Linked DNA regions of Homo sapiens: region 2 is linked to region 1. A link means that fine-mapping ties the variant in region 1 to the expression of a gene that starts in the linked region. Tissue or cell type: whole blood. Region 1 holds a variant in brackets; the other region holds the start of a gene. All regions are shown on one strand. Distances are from middle to middle.

Region 1 (8,109 bases):
GGCTGGTGCAGCTTCTTTCCCCAGACAGAGCTGATCCCAGACAAGGCCGTCCCCTTGAAACCTGAGGGGCCAGAGTTCAAAGTACGGCTAAGTTGATACTTAGGGAAGGGCGTCACTGGTAAATCTGGGGGAGCCTTGGAGGAAGTTTGTCCAGGAAATGAATTAAGGAGACTCATCCAAAGATCCTCTCATTTTGCAGGTGGGTAGACAGAGACCCAGTGAGGGGCAGTAATTTACCCCCAAATCACACAGGGAGTCACATTGGCACAGCTAAGACTAGAGCAGAGGGCTCTGGCTCCTGACCCACGGCTTTTTTTTTTTTTTTTTTTTTTTTTTGAGGCGGAGTTTCGTTCTTGTTGCCCAGGCTGAAGTGCAATGGCGCGATCTCGGCTCACTGCAACCTCCGCCTCCCAGGTTCAAGCGATTCTCCTGCCTCAGCCTCCCAAGTAGCTGGGATTACAGGCATGCGCCACCATCCCCGGCTCCTTTTTTTTTTGTATTTTTAGTAGAGACGGGGTTTCTCCATGTTGGCCAGGCTGGTCTCGAACTCCCGACCTCAGCCTCCCAAAGTGTTAGGATTACAGGCGTGAGCCACTATACCCGGCCGGCTTTTTTTCTTTTTTTTTTTTTTTGAGACAGAGTCTCACTCTGTCACCCAGGTGTACAGTGGTGCGATCTCGGCTCACTGCAACTTCCGCCTCCCGGATTCAAGCGATTCTCCTTCCTTAGCCTCCAGAGTAGCTGGGACTACAGGCGCGCGCCACCACACCTGGCTAATTTTTGTATTTTTAGTGGAGACGGGGTTTCAACTATGTTAGCCAGGCTGGTCTCGAACTCCCGAACTCGTGATCCTCCCCCGCCCCACCCCGCCCCCCGGCCTCCCAAAGTGCTGGGATTACGGTAAAGGCGTGAGCCACCGCGCCCGGCAGGGCTTTTTCGATTTCTAAAACCGCGGGTTTGGGGCTCTGCGCTGCAGGCACGAACTGCTCACCTTTTCTCCCCACCTCCAGGGCTCGGGAAAGGCGAAGTCCAGGAGCCCGGACCTGACGCAGAATGTCTATAGCTGCCGTCGGCAGCGTGAGCTGGGGCGGCGGTCCTAGGGGCCTTGGCCGCGGCCGACCCCTTGGGTCCCCTTCTCAGCTGTAGGGCGTCCACGGCTCCGGGCCGGTTCCTGGGCCCAGGACCCACCTGACTCACAAGGAAGCAGATTGAAAACGCAGCCGCAAGGCCCGCGAGCTCGGGCGGAGGTGCGCAAGCGCCGGGCGGTGGGGCGGGGATCGCGCGGGCCGCCCCTCCCTACCATCCCGACCCGCCTCTGTCCCCGCCCCGTCCCCGCCCTTATCCCCCTCACCTTCGCCCTCTCCCGCCCCATCTCCCGTCGCCCTCGCCGTCCCCTCTCCCTCCTTCGTCTCACTGTGCACCTCTCTGCGCCCCTGTCACCCGCCTTCACTGCGCGCCTCCGTTACCCTGCACCATCTACGCCCCTTATTCCCTCCCCGCACCCTCTGAGGTTCCCCAGCCCGCACCCTTCCGCTCCGCAGCCCCCGTTACCAGCACCTTCTCCGCCCTGTCTGCGCACCCCCTGCCCGCCACACCGCCGCTCCTCACCGCTGTCTCCGCTCCCCATCCCCAACCCCGGCTCCTGGCCTCCTTTGGATCGGGAAACCCCCGAGAAGTACCCAGGTTGAGTGGGAGGAGGGGAGTTGGGACCCAGCCTGGCTTGCTTAGTGTTGTGTGAACCTGGGCAAGGCCCAGCCCCTCTCTGGTCTCAGGGTCCCCAGTTGGTATTGGAGGGAATTGCTTTCAGTTGGAAACTTGTTAAATCCAAGATAACTTGGTGAGGGTAGAGTCCGCTGCAGTAACCTGCTTTTTTATTCTTTCTCTTTTTTTTTTTTTGAGACGGAGTCTCCCTCTGTCGCTCAGGCTGGAGTGCAGTGGCGCGATAGCCCACTGCAACCCCCGCCTCCCAGTTTCTTGCGATTCTCCTGCCTCAGACTCCCCAGTAGCTGGGATTACAGGTGTGTGCCACCACACCCAACTAATTTTTGTATTTTTAGTAGAGACAGGGTTTCGCCGTGTTGGCCTGGCTAGTCTTGAACTCCTGACCTCAGGTGATCCGCCCACCTCAGCCTCCCAAAGTGCTGGGATTACAGGCATGAGCCACCGCACCTGGCCTCTTTTTGTTTTTAAGAACCCTGTGGTACCATCCTGGCTAACACGGTGAAACCCTGTCTCTGCTAAAAATACAAAAAATTAGCCGGGCATGGTGGCAGGTGCCTGTAGTCCCAGCTACTCGGGAGGCTGAGGCAGGAGAATGGCATGAACCCGGGAGGCGGAGCTTACAGTGAGCCAAGATTCTGCCACTGCACAATATTTGCCTGGGCAAAGAGCGAGACTGTGTCCCCAAAAAAAAAAAAAAAAAAAAAGATCCCTGTGGTAAGAGCCTGGAATCCTAACCACTAGACCACCAGGGAGCTTTTTTATTCTTTTGAAGAATAAAAAAAGAGTTTTATCTTTGTTTGCAAAAGTAATGTATGTTGGCTGGGCGCGGTGGCTCACGCCTGTAATGCCAGCACTTTGGGAGGCTGAGGTGGGTGGATCACCTGAGGTCAGGAGTTCAAGACTAGCCTGGCCAACACGGTGAAACCCCGTCTCTACTAAAAATACAAAATTAGGCGAGGTGGTTCATGCCTGTATTCCCAGCTACTTGGGAGGCTGAGGAAGGAGAATCGCTTGAACCGGGGAGGTGGAGGTTGCAGTGAGCCAAGATCAGGCTACTGTATTCCAGCCTGGGTAACAAGAGCAAAACTCCATCTCAAAAAAATAAAAAAATAAAAAAATAATAAATAAATAAGGTATGCATGTAATGCATGTTAGTCTCAAAAAACTAAAAAATACAAACATATGAGAGTTGGCCATGCAGAGGGGAAGGATCTGAGTGATGGTTAAGGGACCCCCTGATGCAAAGGCCTCCAGGCAAGAAAGTTTTTTTTCCGAACCAAAGAGACACTGAGGAACTATAGGAATGTTGCTAGCCAGGGGGTTTGGGCCAAAGAGGCTGGGGAGGTACCGGAGGGGAAGCTTTGAGATACTTCTGTGCCTGTGCTCTGTTCCTCTTTAGTCTCATCACCTTGCACTATGACCTTAGGCAAGACAGGTCATAAGACAGCCCCCACCACCCAGGCCCCTTTGAGAGGGTCTTGCCGCATACCCTGGAGGAAGGAACACTGCACAGAGAGGCCAAGAAGAATCTACACAGATGGGTCTTGGTGGGTTTCTCTATTCAGTCTATTAGCGTTTTGTGCAATCCTGTTTCTACATGTGAAGGGGTGGCCTGCCCCTCCACACCTGTGGGTATTTCTCATCAGGTGGGACGAGAGACTGAGAAAAGAAATAAGACACCGAGACAAAGTATGGAGAAAGAACAGTGGGCCCAGGAGACCGGCGCTCAGCATACGGAGGACCTGCTCTGGCACTGGTCTCTGAGTTCCCTCAGTATTTATTGATTACTATTTTCACTATCTCAGCAAGAAGAATGCGATAGGAGAGCGGGCTGATAGTGAGGAGAAGGTCAGCAAGAAAACATGTGAGCAAAGGAATCTGAGTCACAAATAAGTTCAAGGGAAGGTACTATGCCTGGATGTGCACACAGGCCAGATTTATGCTTCTCTCCACCCAAACATCTCAGTGGAGAAAAGAATAACAAAGCAGCATTGCTGCCAACATGTCTCGCCTCCCGCCACGGCGCGGTTTTTCTCCTGTCTCAGAATTGAACAAATGTATAATCGGGTTTTATACCGAGACGTTCAGTTTCAGGGGCAGGCAGGAGACAGAGGCCTTCCTCTTATCTCAACTTCAAGAGGCCTTCCTCTTTTACTAATCCTCCTCAGCACAGACCCCTC[G/T]CGGGTGTCGGGCTGGGGGACGGTCAGGTCTTTCCCATCCCACGAGGCCATATCTCAGGCTGTCACATGGGGAGAAACCTTGGACAATACCAGGCTTTCCAGGGCAGAGGTCCCTGCGGCTTTCCGCAGTGTATTGTGCCCCTGGTTTATCGAGAATGGAGAATGGCGATGACTTTTACCAAGCATACTGCCTGTAAACATTTTGTTAACAAGGCACATCCTGCACAGCCCTAGATCCCTTAAACCTTGATTCCATACAACACATGTTTCTGTGAGCTCAAGGTTGGGGCAAAGTTACAGATTAACAGCATCTCAGGGCAAAGCAATTGTTCAGGGTACAGGTCAAAATGGAGTTTCTTATGTCTCCCTTTTCTACATGGACACAATAACAGTCTGATCTCTCTTTTCCCTACATACACGGCCATGTACACTTCGTTGAACCTAAGCATAAAAATGGACAGTTTCCTCTGTATCTGTGGCTCTTCATTCTGAAGGCTCCCATGTCACAAAAAAACTATGATCAAATAAATGTATATGCTTTTTCTCCTATTAAAAAAAATACAGACATATTCAGGGTTAGGCATAGTGGCTCATGCCTGAAATCCTAGCACTTTGGAAGGCTAAGGTGGAAGGATCCCTTGAGCTCAGGGGTATGAGACCAGCCTAGGAAACAAAGTGAGACCCCATCTTGTTAAAAAATAATAACAGGCTGGGTGTGGTGGCTCACGTCTGTAATTGCAGCACTTTAGGAGGCCGAGACCAGTGGATTACTTGAGGTCAGGAGTTTGAGACCAGCCTGACCAACATGGTGAAACCCCATCTCTACTAAAAATACAAAAATTAGTGGGGCATGGTGGCAGGTGCCTGTAATCCCAGCTACTCGGGAGGCTGAGGCACAAGAATTGTTTGAACCTGGGAGGCAGAGGTTGTAGTGAGCTGACATCACAGCATTGCACTCCAGCCTGGGTGACAGAGCAAGACTCTGTCTCAAAAAATAATAATAATAATGCAAAATACAAACGTGTACAAAATAAAAAGCCAGCCCCCCACCAACACCCAACCTCATTCATTGACCACCTAACATCTGTGGGCTCTGTGTCCCCTGTCCTTCTCTGAGGATTCAGTGGGAAACAAGGTGGTTCCTGCCTGCATGGGGCATGGGAGGGGCAGACAACCATTGAGTAGATAAATAAACAAAGTGATTTCAGAGAGAGAAGTGGAAGCGGTAAAAACAATCATTTTATGAACAGTGACAGGGTATCTCTTTGGATGAGGTGGTCAAGGAAGGAACAAAGATCTGAATGGTGAGAAGGAGGTTGTCAGGTTAAGATCAAGGAAAGTACTCCAGGTGAGGAACCGGAAAGAAGGGTGTGGGGCCTCAGCCTGCTTACTGAACAAGGGCAGTAGCCTTGGGGCAGGGAGAGAAGGGCTTCCCCACCCCATCTCACTCCCCAGGGATTGCTGAGGTGACAGTTTTGGTTATGCTATGACACAGTTTTCTAGCAGCACACAAACATGTATCTAATTTTCTTTCTTTCCTCTCTTTCTTTCTTTCTCTTCCTCCTTCCCTCCTTTCTTTCTTTTTTTTTCATTCTTTCTCTCTGTCTCCCTCCCTCTTTTCTCTCTCTCCTTTCTTTCTCTCCCTCCCTCCCTCTTCTCTCTCTCTCTTTCTCTCTCTCTCTCCTTCCTTCCTTTCTCCCTCCCTCCTCCCTTCCCTTCCCTTTCTTTCTTTCCTTTCTTCTTCCCTCCCTCCCTTCCTCCCTTCCTTCCTCCCTCCCTCCCTCCCTCTCTCTCTCCCTCCCTCTCTCTCTGTCTCTTTCTCTCTTTCTTCCATTTTTGAGACGGAGTTTCACTCTTGTTGCCCAGGCTGGAGTGCAATGGTGCCATCTCAGCTCACTGCAACCTCCACCTCCTGGGTTCCAGCGATTCTTCTGCCTCAGCCTCCCGAGTAGCTGGGATTACAGGTGCCTGCCACCACGCCCAGATAATTTGTGTATTTTAGTAGAGACAGGATTTCATCATGTTGGCCAGGCTGGTCTTGAACTCCTGACCTCAGGTGATCCACCTGCCTCAGCCTCCCGAAGTGCTGGGATTACAGGCATGAGCCACCGAGCCTGGCCCTTTTTTTTTTTTTTTTTTTTTGTGAGACAGAGTCTTACTCTGTCACCCAGGCTGGAGTGCAGTGATGCGATCTGGGGTCACTGCAACCTCTGCCTTCCAGGTTCAAGCAATTCTCCTGCCTCAGCCTCCTGAGTAGCTGGGATTACAGGTGTGCGCCACTGTGCCCGGGTAATTTTTTGTATTTTTAGTAGAGACGAGGTTTCGCCGTGTAGCCAGACTGGTCTAGAACTCCTGACCTCAACTGATCCACCCACCTTGGCCTCCCAAAGTGCCGGGATTATAGGCATGAGCCACTGTGCCTGGCCTAATTTTCTTCCTTTCAACTCTTAAAAACAAAAAAACAAAACTTTCTCCTATGTTCCAAGTTGGTCTGTTCACTGGGTTCAGGCCTGGGAAGAAACACAAAGTGCAGAGTCACAGACTTTGGACCTGCAAGAGAGAGCCCGACTCACTTGCAAAACTGGTTTTGTGTTATAAGCATGAAGCAGAAGTGGGGGTGGGAAGGGCAACTGGGAGACCAGAGGTTCAACTGCATTTCACAGAATCCAAGAATGTCTGATACTGTCTACTTTTCAGGGTCACCGAAAACCTAACCCCTTAGGTTCTGATCCCAGCTCTGCCATCTGTCTGTCTGTGAGCTCTCCATTCAATTGTTTTTCTCTCTGAGCCTCAGTATCCCAATATGCAAAATGTGAATTTTCCCAAAGTGAACATACCCATGCAACCAGCACCCAGACCAAGAAAAAGAACAATTTCCAGAACCCTCCACAGCCTGTCCACTTCCAGTTACTTACTACCCAAAAGGGTAACTATCTTGACTTCAAACTGCATAGTTAAACTTTATTTGTTTTTGAACTGTATATAAACAGAATAATATAGCATGTATTTTTTATGCCTTGCTTCTTTTGCTCAAAATTGTGTTTGATACATCTGTGTTGCTATGTGTAGTTGTAGTTAATCCATTCTCACACCTTTAATATTCTATTATATAAATAGACCACATTTTACTGTTGATGAACATTTGGGTTATCTCCAATTTTGTTTATTACACTTCTTTTTTCTTTTTTTTGGAGACAGAGTCTCGCTCTGTTGCCTAGGTTGGAGTGCAGTGGCGCCATCTTGGCTCACTGCAACCTCCCACCTCCCAGGTTCAAGCAATTCTCCTGCCTCAGCCTCTCAAGTAGCTGGGATCACAGGTGCCTGCCACCACGCCCGGATAATTTGTGTATTTTAGTAGAGATGGGATTTCATCATGTTGGCCAGGCTGGTCTTGAACTCCTAAGCTCAGGTGATCCACCCACCTCAGCCTCCCAAAGTGCTGAGATTACAGGCATGAGCCACCATGCCCGGCCTTATTACATATATTATAAAATGCTGCTATGAATGCTGTTGAACATGTGTCTTATGAACATAGGTAATGTTGGGTAAATACTGTTGGGTAATACCTAGGTGTGGAATCACAGGGTCATAAGGTATGCATATGTTCAGCTTTGGTAAATAGGGCCAGACATTTCTTTTTCTTTTTTTTTTTTTTTTGCAGACAGGATCTCCCTCTGTAGCCCAGGCCGGAGTGCAGGCCAAACATGGCTCACTGCAGCATCCACCTCCTGGACTCAGGCAATCCTCCTGCCTCAGCCTCCCAAGTAGCGGGAACCACAGACATGTGTCACCACGCCCCGCTAATTTTATTTTTGTTTTTATTTTTTAGTATAGACATGGTCTCACTATGTTGCCCAGGCTGGAGCTAGACATTTTGTTTTCTTTCTTTCTTTCTTTCTTTCTTTTTTTTTTGTTCTTGTGGAGCCAGGCATTTTGAAAGGGTGTACCAGTCATATCTGAGAGTTCCAGTTGTTCTGCATTCTCAACACTTGACATTGTCCCATTGTCCTTTTAGTATTAGGCATTTTCTTTTTCGAGTCTCCCTCTGTTGCCCAGGCTGGAACGCAGTGGCACGATCTCAGCTAACTACAACCTCCGCCTTCTGGGTTCAAGCAATTCTCCTGCCTCAACCTCCCGAGTAGCTGGGATTACAAGCGCACACCACCACACCTGACTATTTTTGTGTGTGTGTGTTTTTAGTAGAGAC
Region 2 (8,000 bases), 21 kb after region 1:
GGAGGTGGAGAGCTCTGTTTTAGACACTTCCTTTTGGAGGTGCCTGGGAGACTATCCCATAGCCAAAGGATGGGGAGGGGCGGGGAAGAGCCACAAAAATGGGGGCTGGCAGGCCTGAGTCCAACTGCTTTTTGTATGAATGGGACCTCAAGGTCCAGAGAGGGGCAAGGACTTACCCAAAGCCACACAGCGAGCAAAAGGACTAGAACCCTGGTGTGTTAACTCCCAGGTGAACTGGGAGATCCTTTGGTAGGTTGGAGTCAAGTCAGATGTCGAAGCCAGGTCTAATCCCTCTAATTTGCTTCCCAGAAAACCACCTTTGTAACAGGTCCTTGGCTTCTGGAATCCAAAGCTGCATTCCCGTGGCCTCAACTCCTCATTGCTTTCAGGAGGCTGAGGGAACAACTGCCTCCTGCTTATCAGAAACAGTGGGGCAGGGCTGCCTAGGAACTGGCTGCCCTTCTCCCCATAGTCTCTTAGGCCCCTTTAGCTGCCTTCAGCCATCTCAGGGGCCCATTTTATCCAGTCTTCCTCCTTGGTAGGGTGGGGTTATCACAAGTCACACAGGGGCCAGCCCTGCTGCCACACCCCTGGGTGGGCCAGCCCCATCACCTAACACAGGGGCAGGCCAGGCCTCCCCAGTCATGTCTCAACCTCCAAACAGACAATTATTCAGTAGATATGAGGTCCCAGCTGCCCATTTCGTACTCGATTTTGCTCTCATGTCTGCCAGGAGTTTTTTTTCCTTTTCTTTTTTTTTTTTTTTTTTTTTTGAGACAGAGTCTGGCTCTGTCACCCAAGCTGGAGTGCAGTGGTTCGATCTCGGCTCACTGCAACCTCCACCTCCTGGGTTCAAGTGATTCTCCTGCCTCAGCCTCCCAAATAGATGGGACTACAGGCATGCATGACCATGCTTGGCTAATTTTTGTATTTTTAGTAGAGACAGGGTTTCGCCATGTTGGCCAGGCTGGTCTCAAACTCCTGACTTCAAGTGATCCGCCCGCCTCTGCCTCCCAAAGTGCTGGGATTACAGGCGTGAGCCACCGCACCTGGCCGAGAGAATATTTTTGCATATTGAGAGAATTACCAAAATGTAAGCCAGTTGCCCAAGACCACATAGCTACTTAGTGACTGAGCCAGAATTTGAATTTGTTCTGGACTCCAAATGCTGGGTTTTATATACTGTATTTCATAATACTGATAAACACCTGATTCAGTAGGCGTCTCTCTGCCCATACTGTTTCTGCTTTGGGTGCTGGAGAGACAGAAGAAACAAAAGAAAAACATACTGAGTGTATTCGTTCTGTGCTGGGCACAGCACTGAAGTACTTGGTAGTAGTATCTCATTTCATTGCAAGAATTGTCCTAACTTTTAGTGATAAGGAAACAGAGGCTCTGAGCGGTTCAGTGACTTGCTTAATGCCATTCTAGAGTCTAGTCAGATGTTGAAGAGAGGTCTAATCTCTCTGACTCACTTCCCACAAACAATCTCTGTTGTTTTCTGGCTTCTGAATCCAAAGCTGCATTCCACTGGCCTCAACTCCCCATCGCTTTTAGGAGGCTGAGGGAACAACTGGCTCCTGCTTAGCAGAAACCCTGGGGCAGGACTGCCTAGGAGCCTGAGACCGGGGCAGGGTTAGAGTAAAGGGAACAGTCTCACTACAGCAGTCCACTTTGATCTGTTTTTGAATTTTAAGATTCAGAGACAGATTTGATTTGAGAAACGGCTGTCAGTGCTGAAAATATTAAAAGCTTGAAAATTGCCAATCCTGTTTAATCCCTTACACTTTAATGTGGAAAATGGGGTATAAAGAGGCAACGGGACTTTTGGAGATCACAGTGAGTGACATACAGAGCTATAAACTGACCCTGCAGCTCCTGGCTTCTATTTCAGTGCCCTGATACCTACACCATAGAGTCATTCCATTGTAAGAGGTACTTAATAAGTGGAGTTTCCCACTCCATTCTGTGAGTGGGAAAACACCCCCTGAATCACATATTGGCAGAGCCAAATGCAGGGTGGGTTTTGCTTTGCAAAAAGGCCCTTAGAGTTTGGGAGAATTTCACAGACTGGGAGGGCACTTCTCCCAAATCAAGCGAGCTTGCAAACCACAATTTAAATGCCTGTGACATTACCACACTGAAGACAGGAGCGAGCCGCCAGGAGGTCCAGCACCTCTGCCCAACCACATCAGACAGGTTAGCTTTGCTGGGACGCAGAGTATAGGGCGGTGCAGAAAGATCCATGTTTCAGGGTCAGACAGTCCCAGGTTTGGTCTATGCTCTGCTGTGTAATTTTGGGCAAAGTAATTGACCTTTCAGTGTTCATTTCATAATCTACAAAATAGGCATGATATCTCTAACTTGCAAGGCTGTGGAGATTATTGATAGGGATAAGGTAGGTGTCTGGCACCAAGTAGCTGCACAGTAAACATGTAGCTACTTTTATTACTATTAGGAGTGGGGCTGGGTTGGAACGAGATGTCCTGGCACAGCTCTGTGCCTTCTGCACCTCACCAGATGGGAATATGAGCTCAAACCCTTGTGGGCCACAGGGTTTTCCAAGATTTCTGAAGTGGAGTCCCTGCCTTCCAGCAGGTTATGTGGTGGAGGAAAAACAAAATAATCACCACCGGGCTGCCAGAGTAGAGGGGTGGACCAGGTGCTGTCAGAGGGACTGTGTCTCTGAGTCAAGGGTGGTTTCATGGAAGAGGGGACAGTGAAGGATAAGAAGTGTTTCAGATTTAATATGAAAGTATCTCCTCCCATGGAAGGCAACATCCCCAAACTGGGAGTAACTGAAGTTGGGCCCTGAGCACTGCTACCAGGAGGGGCTATGAGCTTCATGTGCCACCCCCCACCCCTGCAAGTTGTACTATGCTGAGGATTCCAGAGGCTGTGGGTCTTCGCACAGAGGCTTAGGACCTGCTGCCAGCCCTGGCAGGCTCTGCCACTGGCCAGGGAGGAGGCAGTCAGGAGAGCCAGCTAGATAGAAGGTGGCCAGAACTGAGAAATCCAAAGCCCCACAAAGGCCCAGGAGAGCAGCTGTCATGCAGTTCTGAAAAGAGATGAAGTGTTTATTCAGCCAACCCACATTTCTTGAATATCTACTATGGGCCTGCTGAAGTGCTAGACACAGGGATTAAAGAGAAGAATGAGACCCCAGCCTTGCCCTGGGGCTTTGAAGAGCCTGATCGCCTCTGGGGTTAGCCATTTAGACGTAGGAGAAGCTGCCATTCCCAGAATCCTAGAATATCTTGGCTAAGAGTCTTCTTAAAGTTTGCTGATTGTATCACTGAAACAAGGGTGAAACTGGGCTCAGAGAGGGGTAGACACAGGCCCAGGATCACGCAGTGGGTCAGCGGCAGATCTGGGGGAAGGTCTCCAGCAGCCCAGTCCTCAGTGCCCACCATGACACCTCCATACTTTAAGGATAGATATCAAATCTGTTTCCCAGCAGGTTGGGCTTGTGGAGAGCTTTGGGTGAGCCAGACTCTGGGCCTGGCTGCTGTTGGTAGCAGGATGGTTAAGTATGTGGGCTCTGGAGTCTGATAGATGTGGGTACAAATCCTAGTTCTGTAGCTTTCTAGTTGTGTGACCTCAGTTTCTTCGTTTAGTAAATGGGGACTAGAACCGACCTCAATGGGTTGTTGTAAGAAATGAATGGGTCAGGCCGGGCGTGGTGGCTCACGCCTGTAATCCCAGCACTTTGGGAGGCCGAGGTGGGCGAATCACCTGAGCTCGGGAGTTCGAGACTAGCCTGACCAACAGGGAGAAACCCCATCTCTACTAAAAATACAAAAATTAGCAGGCGTGGTGGCACACGCCTGTAATCCCAGCTAGTTGGCAGGCTGAGGCAGGAGAATCGCTTGAACCCGGGAGGCGGAGGTTGCAGTGAGCTGAGATCGCGCCATTGCACTCCAGCCTGGGCAACAAGAGCGAAACTCCGTCTCAAAAATAAATAAATAAATAAAATAAATGAATGGTCAATGCACGCAACGCTTAGTACAAAACGGCTGTTATTGTTTTCACCTCCCTACCCCCCCACCAACCACCACCCGCACCTCGGGTTCTGCATCGATGGAGTCTGCCCAGGCGGTATCCGAGAGGGTGAACCCCAGAGAAGAGGTGCGGAGCCCCGAACCCGGGCCCCCAACCTCGGCTGCAGCGGGATAATCCAGCCCAAACAAACGCTCCACGGGACTCCGTGCACGGCTGCACCGCCAGGGCTTCAGGCGCACAGCACAATCTGGGGACGCAGGACTCTTGGTGCCACAGTCCCCGCCTCGCCCTGGAGCCGCCCTCCAGGCCCGCTATCTCCCCGCATCCAGCCCCCGCTCACCTGCCTCCCTAAGGGCTCCCGGCCGCTGCTCCTGTCACCGCTGTCTCCCGCTCCGGTCTCCCACAGACCGCGTAAGAGCGGGGGGGGCTCACCCGGAAGCAGCTTCCCCACGGTCCGCCCCCTCCACAGTCCAGGCCACGCCCCCTGAAGGCGGTCTTCTGGGGGGCTCCTCCGCTCCAGCCGCGGCCCCGCCCACACGCAACGAGGCCTGGCCAATTGGGTGTGTCGAGGGCCTGGAGGGCCCGCCCGTCCCCGCTCCGGGCCCTGCGCTTGTGCAGCGAACTGCAGGAGGGAGGCCACGAGGGGGCGCAGGAACCGCTTGGGAGGGTCCCTGGGTGTGAGCCGGCCTCGGAGGCGGTTACAGCCCAGGTTTCACTTCACAGCATTCCTTTGCCCAGCCTAGGGCAAACTTGGCTCTGGTTAATGGCTTGGTGAAAGAATAATTGGATGTCAAAGCCGTTAAAACAGCACCATTATGCCTAACACAGTATTAGCTAAGTCCATTTTTGCGGACTAAGCTAAAGTTGTTGAGTTCAGCGCCAGGCTTCCAAGTTTTCAGAGAAAATTTGTACCAGCTTCATTTATTTCTCAGGGTACGGCAATGCTATGAGTTGAGAGATGTGATGTGAAAGACATGGGCGTTTAGGAAAACTCCAAGTCTTGATAGGGGCATCAGACCTATGATAGGTACAATGATAGATCCGATCAAAGGTCTTTATGGAGATTGGAGATGTGCAGAGGCAAGAGGGATCTGGTGAGGCTTATGGGGCCTGGGTAAACCAGTAGGATTGGATGAGTAAAATGGCGATCGGGCATCATCGCCCTAGCGAAGCAATGCCTTTCAGGTGGTTCTTCAGGGATTATTGAAAAGTTGACTTTCAAATGTAGAGGACACTAGTGGGTTACATTACACTTATTCTCAGATTTTATTTCTCAGCCCGGTTCGGTGGCTCACGCCTGTAATCCCAGCACTTTGGGAGGCCAAGGCGGGCGGATCTCTTGAGGTCAGGAGTTCAAGACCAGCCTGACCAACATGGTGAAACCCTGTCTCTACTAAAAATACAAAAAATTAGCCGGGCGTGGTGGCGGGCTCCTGTAATCCCAGCTACTCGGGAGGCTGAGGCAGGAGAATCGCTTGAACCCGGGAGGCGGAGGTTGTAATGGGCTGAGATCATGCCACTGCATTCCAGCCTGGGTGACAGAGGGAGACTCTGTCTCAAAAAAAAATTTTTTTTTAAATTTCTCAAAATCTGTACCCCAAACCTGTTGTATACTTTATATTTTAAATTTAAGGGGCCTAGCGGCGTAAGGCTAGGGAAATATGACACTGCTTAGTTTCCAGCTACTGGAGTTCTGATCTGTATTCAACAAGGAAGGGGATAGAAAGCAAATAATGTTTGCTGTGCATTAAAGAGTCAGGGACAGTACCATGCATTTTACATTCATTTATCTAATCTTGACAGCAACGATGTTACTATTCTCACTTTACGGATTGGGAAAACAATTGCCAGCTAGATTAAATAATTTGCCCCATGTTACACTGGGCTCTCTCTGCAATGCCTGCTAATAACCACACTCCATAGGGGCAATTATTATTTGTTTTTTCCTAGATTCCCTGCCCGACATTTCTTTCCTGACACTCATTCCTTCCCTGAGGTTATTGGTAACTAAAAATAATTAGAACCATCTAAGAACCCAAATAGAACGGGAAATTTTAAAATGTTGCTGTTTGGTGTAGCTTATTTCCCCCATGTCTTTTCTTCTTCTTGACTGAAAGACCTGTTCCCACTCTCCCCCCAGCCTCCACCTTTTGAAACATTTTACCTTAATCTTTCAGTATTGTGAATGCAATAATATGAATAAATCTTAAACATATTGTTGAGTAAAAGAAGTGAGACACAAAATAGTATATAATATGATTTCATTTATATTAACTACACAATCAAGCAAAATTAAGCTGTGTTGTTAGGACTCAGAATAGTGATTTCCACTGGGGAGATGGGGAGGATTGAAAGGGAGATTAGGCTGGGTGTGGTGGCTCACACCTGTAATCCTAGCACTTTGGGAGGCCAAGGCTGGTGGATCGCTTGAGCCCAGGAGTTCAAGACCAACCTTGGCAACATGGCGAAACAGTCTCTACAAAAATTACAAAAAGTAGCTGGGCATGGTGGTGGACACCTGTAGTCCCAGCTACTTGGGAGGCTGACATGGGAGGATTGCTTGAGCCTGGGAGGTCAAGGCTGCGGTAAGCTGTGATCGTACCACTGCACTCCAGCCTGGATGACAGAGCAAGACCCTGTCTCCAGAAAAAAAAAAAAAAAAAAAAAAAAAAAAGGCGGCAGGGGGAGACTAAAGAGGTTTCTTTGGATGCAGTTAATGTTTATTGGTCTGGGTGTGAGTTACATGGCTGTGTTTAATTCGTGAAAATTCATTAAGCTCCACACTTATTTGTGTCTTTTAGTATGTATATTTCGTTTCAATAAAAAGTTAAAACTAAACTATTCTGAGTGTCTTCTAGGTAGGTATATGGCATTGTGCTAAATGCTGTGAAAAGCATAAAAAAGGAACAAGAAAGAAAGCAGACTGCTGATTGCCAGGGCCTGAGGAAAATGTTTTGAAACTAGATAGAGGTAGTGGTTGCACAACATTGTGACTGTTCTAAATGCCACTGAACTGCTCATTTAAAAATGGTTAATTCTATGTTCTTTGAATTTCATCTCAGTCTTAAAAAGTGAGTTCACTAGATGCAATGTGGTATTCTGGGTTGGCCCCTGTAATCGAAAAAGGACATAAGTAGAGAAACTGTTGAAATATAAAAAGCTTATTAAAAAAAAACGGGGCAAGGCCAAAGGTCATTGGAACAGAATCCCAGTTTTCATAAATTCTTGGTAAGATCTTGAGCAAGTCACTTCTCTCTGAAGAACCTCAATTTCCTATCAGTAAAAATAGGAGGTTAGGCTGCAAAAGTAGCTTTGAATGGGTTGGGACGAGAACCCTCCCACCTCCCGAATCCAAATCAGAATCTCTGGGCATGAAGGGCCATGGTAAAAAAGTGAAACATTACCTTAGCCTAGTAAGGAACTTCAAAAGTCCAGATACCACTGCAGTAATGATAGAAGTGTGGTGGGGGGAATACTGGTGGATGATGTCAAAAATTTTTACCAGTTGTTAAATTCTGTAGTTTTTTTTTTTTTGAGACAGAGTCTTGCTCTGTCACACAGGCTGGGGTGCAGTGGCGCAGTCTCAGCTCACTGCAACCTCTGCCTCCTGGGTTCAAGCGATTCTCCTGCCTCAGCCTCCCAAGTAGCTGGGACTACAGGCTACCATGCCCGGCTAATTTTTGTATTTTTAGTACAGAAGGGGTTCCCCATATTGGCCAGGCTGGTCTCGAACTCCTGACCTCGTGATGAGCCTGCCTTGGCCTCCCAAAGTGCTGGGATTACAGGTGTGAGCCACCGCGCCCGGCCAAATTCTGTAGTTTCAAAGTAATAGTCCCTATTTTCAGGAAACATGTTTTTCTTAGGTAGTCCAAGTTTGGTGATGAATGGGGCAGAATTAACTAAAGCCATATGGAAGAGTTCTTTTGGGGATTCACCGTTGACTAGAGCACATAGCCTTGTTAGAGAGTGGCAGGTTAAAATAGGTAGCAGGGTGAGCC

What was found. PIP is the estimated chance that this variant, and not a neighbour inherited with it, causes the effect.
Region 2: it holds the start of ALAD, and the variant in region 1 is fine-mapped to the expression of ALAD in whole blood (INTERVAL, PIP 0.96).

The regions. Positions count from the first base shown.
Region 1 is chr9:113,375,738-113,383,846 of GRCh38, forward strand. HDHD3 (haloacid dehalogenase like hydrolase domain containing 3) reads right to left here and starts at 1,249. Exons shown (of 3, transcript NM_001304509.2): 1 at 992-1,249. RefSeq lists a silencer at 1,101-1,620 and an enhancer at 5,356-5,415. The variant G/T (reference allele first, on the strand shown) is at 3,903.
Region 2 is chr9:113,396,870-113,404,869 of GRCh38, forward strand. It overlaps ALAD (aminolevulinate dehydratase), which reads right to left and starts at 4,415. Exons shown (of 12, transcript NM_000031.6): 1 at 4,343-4,415. RefSeq lists an enhancer at 3,571-4,151 and silencers at 4,167-4,216, 4,367-4,726.